Linked DNA regions of Homo sapiens: all the other regions are linked to region 3. The links come from fine-mapping of genetic effects on gene expression. A gene starts in region 3. Each other region holds a variant in brackets. All regions are shown on one strand. Distances are from middle to middle.

Region 1 (2,687 bases), 44 kb after region 3:
GCCCATGAAATGGCGTCTCATCTAGCCACAAGCCAAGTATGGATCTCAGGAAAGGGCTGGGCATGTGGCTCATGCCTGTGATTCCAACACTTTGAGAGACCAAGACAAGAGGGTTGGTTGAGGCAAAGGAGTTTGAGACCAGCCTGGACAATATAGCGAGATCCCCTCTCTGCAAAATCTTTGAAAACCAATAGGCCTAGCATGGTGGTGCATACCTGTAGTCACAGAGACTCAGCAGGCTGAGGCCGGAGGATTGCTTGAGGCCACAAGTTTGAGGTTGCAGTGAGCTATGATCACACCACTGCACTCCAGCCTGGGTGACAGAGTGAGACCTTATCTCTAAAAAATTTTAAATTAAAAAACAGATCTCAGGGAGGGAGGCTTACTCTCAACTGGAGTAAAGGAAACAGCAAGAGAGGCCATGAGCAAGGGAGCAGCGAGTCTGTGGCAGCAAGCAGTGGCTGCTCAGAGGGGCCATGGGGCAGGGGGAGCAGAAGCCCTGGGTGTGGGATCTTTCTCATGGCTTTGCTGGGAAGCTGTGGGTGGGCTCCCCAGTTGGGATTCACTTTTCAGGGACTTTTCTCTATCAGCTTGTACTTCTGTCCAGGTCAGAGACTGCATGGTTTTCAATCTTTAGCTTGTGTTGGAATTACCTGCAGAGCTTGTGAAAATACTGAAGGTTGAGTTTCTGATTTAGTAAGTCTGGGGTGGGGCCTGAGGGTGTGTTTTTCTAACCAGTCCCTAGGGGCTGTTGCTGCTGCCTGTCGAGGACTACATTTTGAGACCCATTGAACAGGAAGACAATTTTATTTTATGTGACACCATGGTAGGCATGTGTAGCCTCTCATGTAACACTCACCACAGCTCTGCTGGAGAGGTGCTGGACAGTTTGTGAACCTCTGTTATGGGTTGAATTGTGTCCACCAAAATATGTTGATGTCCTAACCCCCTGGACCTCAGAATGTGACTTTATTTGGAACTAGGGTAGTTGTAGGTGTAATTAAGATGGGGTCCTATTGGGGTAAGGTAATCTGATATGACTGGTGTCGTTATAACAAGATACAGAAACACAGAGAGTGAAGAATGCCACATGAGGACAGAGACAGGGAGAAGACAGCCATGTGACAATGGAGGTGCAAATTCGAGTGATGCACCCACAAGCCATAGAATGCTCAGCACTGCCAGGCACCAGCAGAGGCCAGGAGAGAAGGAAGGATTCTCCCCTATAGATTTCAGAGACAGCATGGCCCTGCTGACACCACGCTGTGGCCTTCTAGCCTCCAGAAC[T/C]GTGACACAGTAAATGTGTGTTGTTTTAAGCCACCCAATTTGTGTTACTTTGTTACGGCAGCCAGAGGAAACTAATACACTCTCAAAGCCAAACTAGCCTTAGGCTGTTCTCTCCAGGTGACTCAGCTGTTCTGTGAGTGCTGTGACTGCAACTGGCGGGACCTGGGATCCCTTCCTGAGTCAAAGAGAGCTATGGACATGAGGTGACCTGGTGCAGAAACATTGCCCAGTGGGGGCACTCTTTCCCGGATAGTGACGATTGGCCTAGCCAGCTCCTTTGACTGTGTGCGAGTGATAAAGAGGTAACAAGACGCATCAGAAGGAGCAAGCAGGGGGCATCCTGCAAAGCCATTCCAGCCACAGTCATCTCCTTAATGAAGAGGGGGCTTGTCCCAGGTCTCCAGGAAGCAGTTATGAAATTGTCCTGTTCTTCCTAATAATTAACTTATCTACCTCATCTGAGCAACCATTTGTGTGCCTCTCTTCTTTGCAATCTGGAAGGACCTAAAAAAATAAGAAGAATTCTAAATTAAAAATTACGATCTTCATTTCTCAGTTGAGCAAACTGAGGCTCAGAATGGTTAGGTAACTTATCCAGGGGCTAATAAACTGCAGAGATTGGTCTTAAACCCCTGGCTTCTATTTTACCATCGCATTCAAGTTATCTCTCAGGGGAAAGGCCCACGCAGAGTCTCTTGGTGTGAGGTGGCTTCTACTGTGAGCACCCCACATATCAGACTATGTGCCCTGCAGAATGCACAATGGCCACACCATGGGCTTGGGCAGGGGCCAGCAAGCAGTTTCCTCAACAAGCTACTAAGAAAAAGGTGGCTGCTCCCTCTCTGTCTTTGGCGCCCAGAGCTTGCCTCATTCTTGCCTCATGCATGTCTGCATCATTCATTCAACAAGCACTTATTAAATACCTTCTATGCTTCCCAGCCTTTGAGTGTTAAGGGTTCGTGCAGTTCTTTAATTTGAGGAGTTATCCTTCACACCCTTAACCACTAACTCAGTATCCCCCTCCCTAAGCAATCAATATGATTTTTACTATAGAGGAATTCATACAGGAAAGGGATTTATGCCTAAGGCTGTCCATGTATTGTCTGAAGAAGGTCTGCCTTCGAAAACATGTGTTCATGTGATGTAGACTATTAGAGGTTCAGAAAGGGAAACAGCAACTCAACAAGCTTTGGTGACTACTGAATCCAGTCCTTGGCATATCATAGGAGCTCAAGAAATGTTATGGACTAGTTGAAAGGATCTGGGCAATGCCTCTGTTAGAAATTATTTATCACCAGGACCAGTTAAAAATCAGTGTCTTCATTTATTTATTTACTTTTATTCATTCAAGAAATATCTATTGAGTCCCTACTGATAATGGAAAGGTGAATGAGTCAGTC
Region 2 (2,687 bases), 28 kb after region 3:
TCATTACTAAGTATTTAGATTTACTAAATTTAAACACAGCCTTAGATATACTTTGAAAAAACCACACCCCTGTATTACACAGGTCTTAGTACCAGAATTTTTAATATCTTAATAAAGAATTCTTACATGCTAAATAAGCTCAACTTAAGTTTATTAAGAAAGCATTGGTCAGGCACAGTGGCTTATGTCTATAATTTCAGCACTTTGAGAGGCTAAGACTGGAGGATTGCTTGAGCCCAGTTTGAGACCAGCCGGGGCAGTATAGTGAGACCTTGTCTCTACCAAAAAAAAAAAAAAGTTTTAATTAGCCAGGTGTGGTAGTGCATACCTGTAGTCCCAGCTACTTGGGAGGCTGAGTCAGGAGGATTGCTTGAGCCCAGGAAATAGAGGTTGCAGTAAGCTGTAATTGTGCCACTGTCTGCAGCCAGACCCTGTTTCCAAAAAAAAAAAAAAGAAGGAAGGAAGCATTTATATTTATAACTGGGATAAATGCACTGTCAGTATTTTAGGGATGAAGTTTACTGCCAGCAAGCACAGTGAGGGCAGGAGCTCTGTTCCATTCATCTTTATGTCTCCAGTGTCTGGCCAGCTGTACATTAATATAAATATGGATGGATAAGTGAGTAAATGAATGAAGCTCAGAGCCATAACGTATGGGCTCAATTGCTCATAACGTAACCAATGGCAAGTGACATACTACATGTTCTCTCTCTAGTGGCCATGAAAGTTGCAAGGACAATTTTATCAACTTCAGTCCACAATTTTTTTTTTTTTTGTAGAGATCGGGGGGTCTCACTCTGTTGCCCAGGCTGGCCTCGAACTCCTGGCCTCAAGCAATCCTCCTGCCTCAGCATCCCAAAGTGCTGGGATTACAGGCATAAGCAACCATATCTGGCCTCATTAAAAAAAAACTGTAGAGACAGTCTCCCTGTGTTGCCCAGGCTGGTCTCAAACTCCTGGTCTCAAGTGATCTTCCTGCCTCAGTCTCCCAGTAATCATGATAATGGATTACTATGGTGGCTGGTTCCCTATAAAAGGGTCATTTCACTGTCCCACCTCCACCCTCTCTCACTCTCTCTCCTTCTGTCATGTGATAATGTAGCAAGAAGGCCCTCACCAGATGCCAGCACCTTGATATTGGAGTTCCAGCCTCCAGTACTATGAGCCCATACATTTCTGTTCATTGTAATTTCCCAGTCTGTGGTATTCTGTTATAGCCACACAAAATGGACTGAGACAGGGATCTAGTAAGAAGCTATGCTCTCTGTCAAAATGTTTCTGCATTTCTGAGAGGCAGTGAACCCACAATGGCTTAGGGGGTGTGTGTGTGTGTGTGTGTGTGTGTGTGTGTGTGTGTGTGTGTGTGTGTAAAAGCTAAGAAAAAGTAAAGTACTGGAGAGGGAAAAAAAATCAGTTAATAACTCAAAGTATTATCCCAGGATGTCATCATTGGCCTTAGCTGTGCTGAATTTGGGTG[A/G]AAAAAAAGTAAGATTTAAGGAAATATATTCTACACTCTTTCTACTCAAGGTACAGGGTTGAGTTTTCAAAATCATACTTGCTGGGTTTTTTTTTACTATTTTATTGAGGTATTCAGTACCACCTTTAACAAGGAGAAAGCAGGAGCCATGTGTGTCAATCTTGATTAAAGACCTATTTGTCTTCTTTTACAGATGGCACTAAAAGCAGATTCCTTTCTCACTAAGAAGTGGACAGTTAACTGTAGACTTAGATGCACAAGACAGGGCCTCTGGAAACCTGGCAAGAGACGGAGATGGAAAGTACTAAGCCAGTAAGGGGCCCTAGGGCTCCACTCTCTTCCCAGTGCAGGCAGAGCTCTAGTGTTGACCCCAGAGAAGAGAGGAAGGGTTTTTTTTTTTTTTTTTTTTTTTTGGTCTGCCCAGAAAAAGAATAGTCCAAGGTCAAAGGATCTCAGCAGGTGCAACAGCAACATCAGGGGAGGGGGACTGCTCATTCTGTTTCTCCAGGCCACCCTGGGGAGATGGCTCCTGGCCCTTCTCTTTTCATGGGGCCAGTTGAGTGTAGTCCCTCCTGTTACCAAAAGTGGTCAGATAATCAGGGGCTGTCCCTCTAGACACAATCCAACCACTAGTCCTTTAAAAGTTAAAGTTTTTTAAAAAATCACATTTTAATTTTTTTTTTAAAAAAAGTATGTATGTATGTATGTATTTATTTATTGAGACAGGGTCTCCTTCTGTCACCCCAGCTGGAGCGCAGTGACACAATCATGGCTCACTGCGGCCTCTACCTCCTGGGCCCAAGTGATCCTCCCACCTCAGCCTCCCAAGTAGCTGGGACCACAGGTGTGTGCCACCATGCCTGGTTAATTTTTAAATTATTTTTGTAGAGATGGGATCCCCCTATGTTGTCCAGGCTGGTCTTGAACTCCTGGCCTCAGGTGATCCTCCTGCCTCAGCCTCTCAAAGTGCTGGGATTACAGACATGAGCCACCATGCCTGACCTACTTATTTATTTATTTTAGAGACAGAGTCTCACTCTGTCATCCACACTGGAGTGCAGTGGTGCAATCATAGCTTATTGCAGCCTCGAACTCCTGGATTCAAGAGATCCTCTCACCTCAGCCTCCCAAGTAGCTAGGACTACAAGTGTGTGCCACCATGCCCAGCTAATTTTTTAATTTTTTGTACTTTTTATTTTTTGTAGAGATG
Region 3 (2,687 bases):
CCCAAGGTCTAATAACTTCAATTCAGGCCAAAACCAACTGTACCCCTAATGAAAACAAAACTGTTTTTGTCTTTTCACTGCATTCCAAGTGGGGAAAGCTGGAAGTGGGGGTGGGAGACGTTTCAGAAAGTCCTTAATAAGCTTGCAACACTTTGCATTCTAGCAAAAACTTTTTAGAACACAGTAGCTGTTGAAAACTTGACGCCAGCTTAACACTTCATGAGCTTTGACACACCTGGGTTACAATATCTTTGACTTAATCACCTTTCCTAGCATTCTTAAAGGTCTTAAAAAAAAAAAAAAAAGTCAAACCTTACACAGTCACTAATCCAAGGGGCCTAAAGATAAACTGCAGGGATCTGAGAATTTATCAGACTGCATACCAAATTTTGACTGGGCGGTGTTCCAGAAAGAGTTTCTATAGCCTTCAGATGTGGGGGCTGTAACCCTCAGAAAGTTAGAACAGTGCACTAGCGCCTTCCAAAACTCCCCGCCCCCAAAGCGAATTTATACAACAGTCTAGGTACACAAATTTCCATCTGGAAAGCAGAAGGGCTAAGCAAGGTAAAAAGGGGAAGCTGTTCCAGAATATGGGGAGACGACTCACAACCAACCATCTGCACGAAGGGCAGACAGTGGAAAGCAGGTTCAATCTACCTGGCAACCCCAATCTGCACCACGAGCTTAACCGGGGACAGGCAAGCCCCAAGTCCCGGCAATTCAGACCCCAGAAGAAGGACAAGCAAGGTCACCCCACCCCACGTGCAGCCTGGGAGGGGTCAGCGAGTCCCAGCGGTCCGGCAGGGGCGGGTGCACACAGGTGCGGTGCCCCGGAGCCTGCGCAGGAGCCGCAAACGGACGCGCGGGCCGTGCCAGGAGGGAGCGGCCGGTACCTGGCTTGGAGCGCGTCGAACTCCCCGCGGTGTCCAGCGGCCCCGCGTAGCACGAGCTGCTGCAGCGAGAGCTGCACCAGCGTCCGCAGCGCGATCAGGTAGAGCGCGAGCCCCAGCGCGGCGCGCACCTCAGACAGCCCGGTCCCCGCGCCCCTGCTCGCGCCGCCGCTACCCCCGGGGCTCCTCTTCCGCGTCCTCCCGCCGCCGCTGCACCCATCCACCAGAGGCTCCTGCGCTCGGGCCTCCCTCTCCGGCGGTGGCGCGGCCGCCGCTCCCTCTCGACGCTCTACTCCGACGCGGTGCCGCCTCACAGCAGCCGACTCAGAACCCCACTCCATGGCCACGAGCCTCAGCTGCCAGCCCAACCGCCCCAACCCGCGACAGCCCCGGCCGCCGCCGACGCCGCCGTCGCTGCCGCAGCGCCTCCTAGTGAGCGGACGGAAACTGCAGAGGGCCAAACTTCTTCTGATTGGCCCGTCCCGCCGCGCCAAGACCCAGCTTCTTTGGCAGTTCTCGGGTGCACACAGCTGCAGGGCCGACCCAGCAGCGGGTGGTGGATATGCCGTCTCCCGCAGGGCTTTTCCAGCCCTCTGTAGGACGGAGATTGCCAAATGTAAAGACACCTAAAAACCCAAAACGAGAAAAATGAGAGATCGCTTTTGAAAGAACACACAAGGCTCTTACAGTGCATCAGGCAGATGAAAAAAGCAATGACCTGGCTTTCGTAAGGAAGGAATATTAGAACATCAGGCTCCAAAAAAGTGGGTTCCTGGCTCTTAAAATTAGAAATAAGATTACGCAGAGGAGGCCCGGCCTATTGCTTTCACATGCATAATCTAATCAGATCTTCATAACTCAGCAACTTAATCTGTGCTATTACTGTCTCCATTTAACAGATAAAGAAAAATAATGGCTATTATTTATTGAATACCTGCTATGAGCTAAGCGCTAGGTCAAGTCCTTTAATACATCATCTTATTTAATTATCTTTAACAATACTTAAAAGGAAATATCTTTGTTCCCATTTTATAACCTGAGAAACGTAGAGATAACAGATGAAGAATGTAAATCTAATTTCATGGGCTCCCAAAACAGCATTCTGTTCCACTACTACATTAGCACTCTGCAAGTGAAGGTTCAGAAAGGCCATTCTTCACTTGACGACTCTCTGGGGCGGTTAAGCAGCAGAGCCTTGGTTTCAGTGCAGATCCTAGTGATTATCTAGTCTTCTTCCAGCTTGCCGGTACCCATGAGCCTCTCTGCTCCAAGGTTTTTTGTCCCTAGCTTGGAGTTGCTACATTAGCATGAGCATTAACCTAGAGACCAACTGGGAGAGCACACTGCCGGATTTTGACTTAGCACATATGTCAGATTTCATACAATGCCCTATAGTCCTGCTCTTGCCCACCTCTCAGGCTCCTCTGACACCAGGATGCTTCTTATTTCCAGCTCTCCAGCCACACTGGCCTCTTTCAAAGACTTCCTGCACGCATCTTTCCTTCTACAATAGGATCTTCTCACATGCTGTTTGAATTACCTGGAGTGTTCTTCTCTCTCCTCATTGTCTTTTTAACTCCTAGTTATCCTTTAAATCTCAGATTAAGTGGTACTTCCTCAAGCAAGAATCTCCTAATTTAATTAAGCTTGCTTCCCCTATTTGTAGGATCTCACAGCACCATGTTTGCATGTGACTATTTCATAACTTCCTCATTAGACTGTAAGCCCCACGAAGGCAGGAATCAGGTCTGGTTTTACTCACCATTTTATTCCTTGCTCTTAACACAAAGCATGACA
Region 4 (2,687 bases), 28 kb before region 3:
TCCAAGATTTCCATGCTTTGGGGACATTTTCCATTTCCACAATGAACATCTCCAGGGTTCATTTTGCCCCCTTTCATATTATCAGTGGAACAGAATTTAAATGTCCCCTATCTGAGTCATCTTTTATGGACATCCATAGCTCCCATTCATGACTATAATTTAACAAATAAACGGGGGTGTGGGGGCATTCAGTTCATAACTAGTTGACTTCAGATTAGATTAGAACCTAATCTATAGATAACAAAAGTCCACTGTCTCCTTCAATCCTTACAACAGCAAACCTATCAAAAATACAGATGATATAAGGGTTACTATTAAACTCAAAAGCAGCAAACCCTACAGGCAGCAAAGAACATTTTAGAACTTTTCATACAGCCCTATGAATACCAATAAGGATTATCCTTATCCTTATATTATCCTTAATAATTATCCTATAAGTAAAATGGTTGGAAGGCTCAGATCTCTTTTAAGACTAGTACAACCAACCTCAAACAATAATATGCATAAGAATTACTCTACAGGACTATATACACAAAGTCACATATATAGAGCTTTACTGGCTATAAGGGACTTCCACGGATGATGCTGACCATGTGTGTAGTGTTTTCCTTACCTGCTGTCTTTAGAACCTAACTTCCACAAAGTAAAGGGGTAACGAATGCCCTTTACTATATCAGTATGAAAAGGCTCACTATCATCTCCATGAAGAAAAGAACTATAATAAAATCATAGCTCCTTTTCCTGTTTGGTTCCCTATCCTCAAATTTCAAGGTGCACCTCTGAGTGTTCAATAATTACTTTTTATTCTTAGGAATTCCCACCAAAAGAGACCTGCATTCTCTGGAGGGGCCCATCTTGGATCGTGGAGGTGGACATCAAACCAAAGCAAAACCTTGCTTGGGGCTTACTCTGCTCAAGGGGGGTCTGGTCTTAAACTCTGCATCACTGTCTTTTCTTCCCTCTGGGAATCCCAAGGGAAGAAAAAAAGGGATGGCAAACACAGGACTCTCCTTACTAGGGCAGGACACTGATACGGCAAAATGAGGACTGACAAGGCCTGTGATCATTTCATTATTTGGTAAATGAAGGCACGTTTGGGTGTCATAACAGACTCAATTAACAAGCTTTCATGTGGTAGCAACAAGGTAGTGGAATGATAATGAAAAAAGCCTCATCAGATTTAGTCTTCCTTCACTAGCTCTAAAAGCACTAATAAAACCACCCATGTATCTATTAACATGTGCCTCTAATTAGTAATTTCAAAA[T/C]ATACTATTAGGATCATTCACCACCAGGCAATCTCTAACAATTAATACTTGGTAAACGCTCTACAAATTCACACTCAGGTATCTGACAGGCTATTTGAAAAGAGGTAAATCAGAGAATTTGGAAGGATAGGGAGGCAAAAAACTTTTAAACAGCAACAACAAACTCTATACTACAGTTTCTTACGATACCAAATTTACAAGATGCATGGCCATTCATTCACCATTTCTTCTGCTTCAGATTTTCTCAATAAAGTACACGTAACACTATTTCACAGAATCTAGTATGGCTAAATTCATATTCATATAAAAAATGAAGAAAAAGAAAAAAACTTATTTTCTCTTACAAAATAGGACGAGAGAATCATTGTACAGCCAGCCAAAATGGATGCCAGCACAACATCAGGTGGGATTTCAGAACCACTTCTCCCGAGGATAGGGGTAAACATCTCAAATACTGCCCAGATGAGGTACAATGCATAAAGATAAGGAATAAACATCCCCAAAAGGTAAAAAGCAATAAATTTTCCTTGGGCACCTAGGGAAAAAGAGAAAAAAAGCACACATCTATGAAATCCTCCAGTGAGATATAAATTTTTATAGTACTGGTGTGCCTTGGTACCCTAACAGAAATTAGGTTAGATGTGACTCTTGCCCTTAAGGGTGTATGTTATCTTGGAGTAGGATCTTTCACTCAGGATAAAATACAAATAAGAATAAAGCAAAATACACAAGTAATATATTAGTATGTGTTCACAAACATGAGAAAGGGATGGAGTATAAGGCATAAGATAATTTGTGTGGTATGAAAACTTTTAAAAACTAACAATTTAGAAAGCCTACCCAATAAAACCAAAAAAGAAAGAGTCCCTGAAAGCCTTAAGTATTTTAAGGTATTCTCCCATGTATATCAAAATCAAAAATACCCTACCATGCTGCTTGAAGTCCTTATGCACACAGAGCTTTGTGAGCAATGGGAATGCTACCCAGACAGCACTAATAAACGCCGAGCAAAGTCCTTGGTAAGTGAGGGTAACAAGAAAACAGCAATGGACAAACAGCGAAATGTCAAAAAATACTTCTCCCAGATACTGGGCACTGGCATTCTGAAAGAAAGAAAAATATACAAGTAGTCTCATTCAGGGGTCATGCATAAAGAGCTTTTATTATAGTAACACACTTTCCATCACTCAGGAAAGCTACATTTTGTTTTAAACACAGTCTGCTCTTTAAACTGATTTAAAGTAAACACTAACAAAGCTACCTCCCCCATCATGAAGTAGTAAATTCAAATGTAGCACAAGAAAGGGCATTTTAACAATATAGAGTATAAATGCTCCATGTACTCTATGCTTTTCTTCTACTAGGCTAAAAGTAGAAATTTTCCAAAATAGAAGAAAGGACTCTCCTAAAAAACAATCATCT

The links.
Region 1: its variant is fine-mapped to the expression of ERMP1 in whole blood (INTERVAL, PIP 0.97).
Region 2: its variant is fine-mapped to the expression of ERMP1 in thyroid (GTEx, PIP above 0.99).
Region 4: its variant is fine-mapped to the expression of ERMP1 in blood mononuclear cells (TOPMed, PIP 0.91).

Annotation. Positions count from the first base shown.
Region 1 is chr9:5,875,503-5,878,189 of GRCh38, forward strand. No RefSeq gene overlaps it. Among named protein-coding and RNA genes, the nearest start is that of MLANA, 14 kb to the right of the region's middle. The variant T/C (reference allele first, on the strand shown) is at 1,288.
Region 2 is chr9:5,859,852-5,862,538 of GRCh38, forward strand. It overlaps a transcript of ERMP1 not described here. Among named protein-coding and RNA genes, the nearest start is that of ERMP1, 28 kb to the left of the region's middle. The variant A/G (reference allele first, on the strand shown) is at 1,478.
Region 3 is chr9:5,831,797-5,834,483 of GRCh38, forward strand. It overlaps ERMP1 (endoplasmic reticulum metallopeptidase 1), which reads right to left and starts at 1,321. Exons shown (of 15, transcript NM_024896.3): 1 at 894-1,321. The coding sequence starts at 1,231. RefSeq lists silencers at 888-1,107, 1,188-1,407.
Region 4 is chr9:5,803,418-5,806,104 of GRCh38, forward strand. It overlaps ERMP1 (endoplasmic reticulum metallopeptidase 1), which reads right to left. Exons shown (of 15, transcript NM_024896.3): 9 at 2,194-2,368; 10 at 1,610-1,800. Among named protein-coding and RNA genes, the nearest start is that of ERMP1, 28 kb to the right of the region's middle. The variant T/C (reference allele first, on the strand shown) is at 1,266.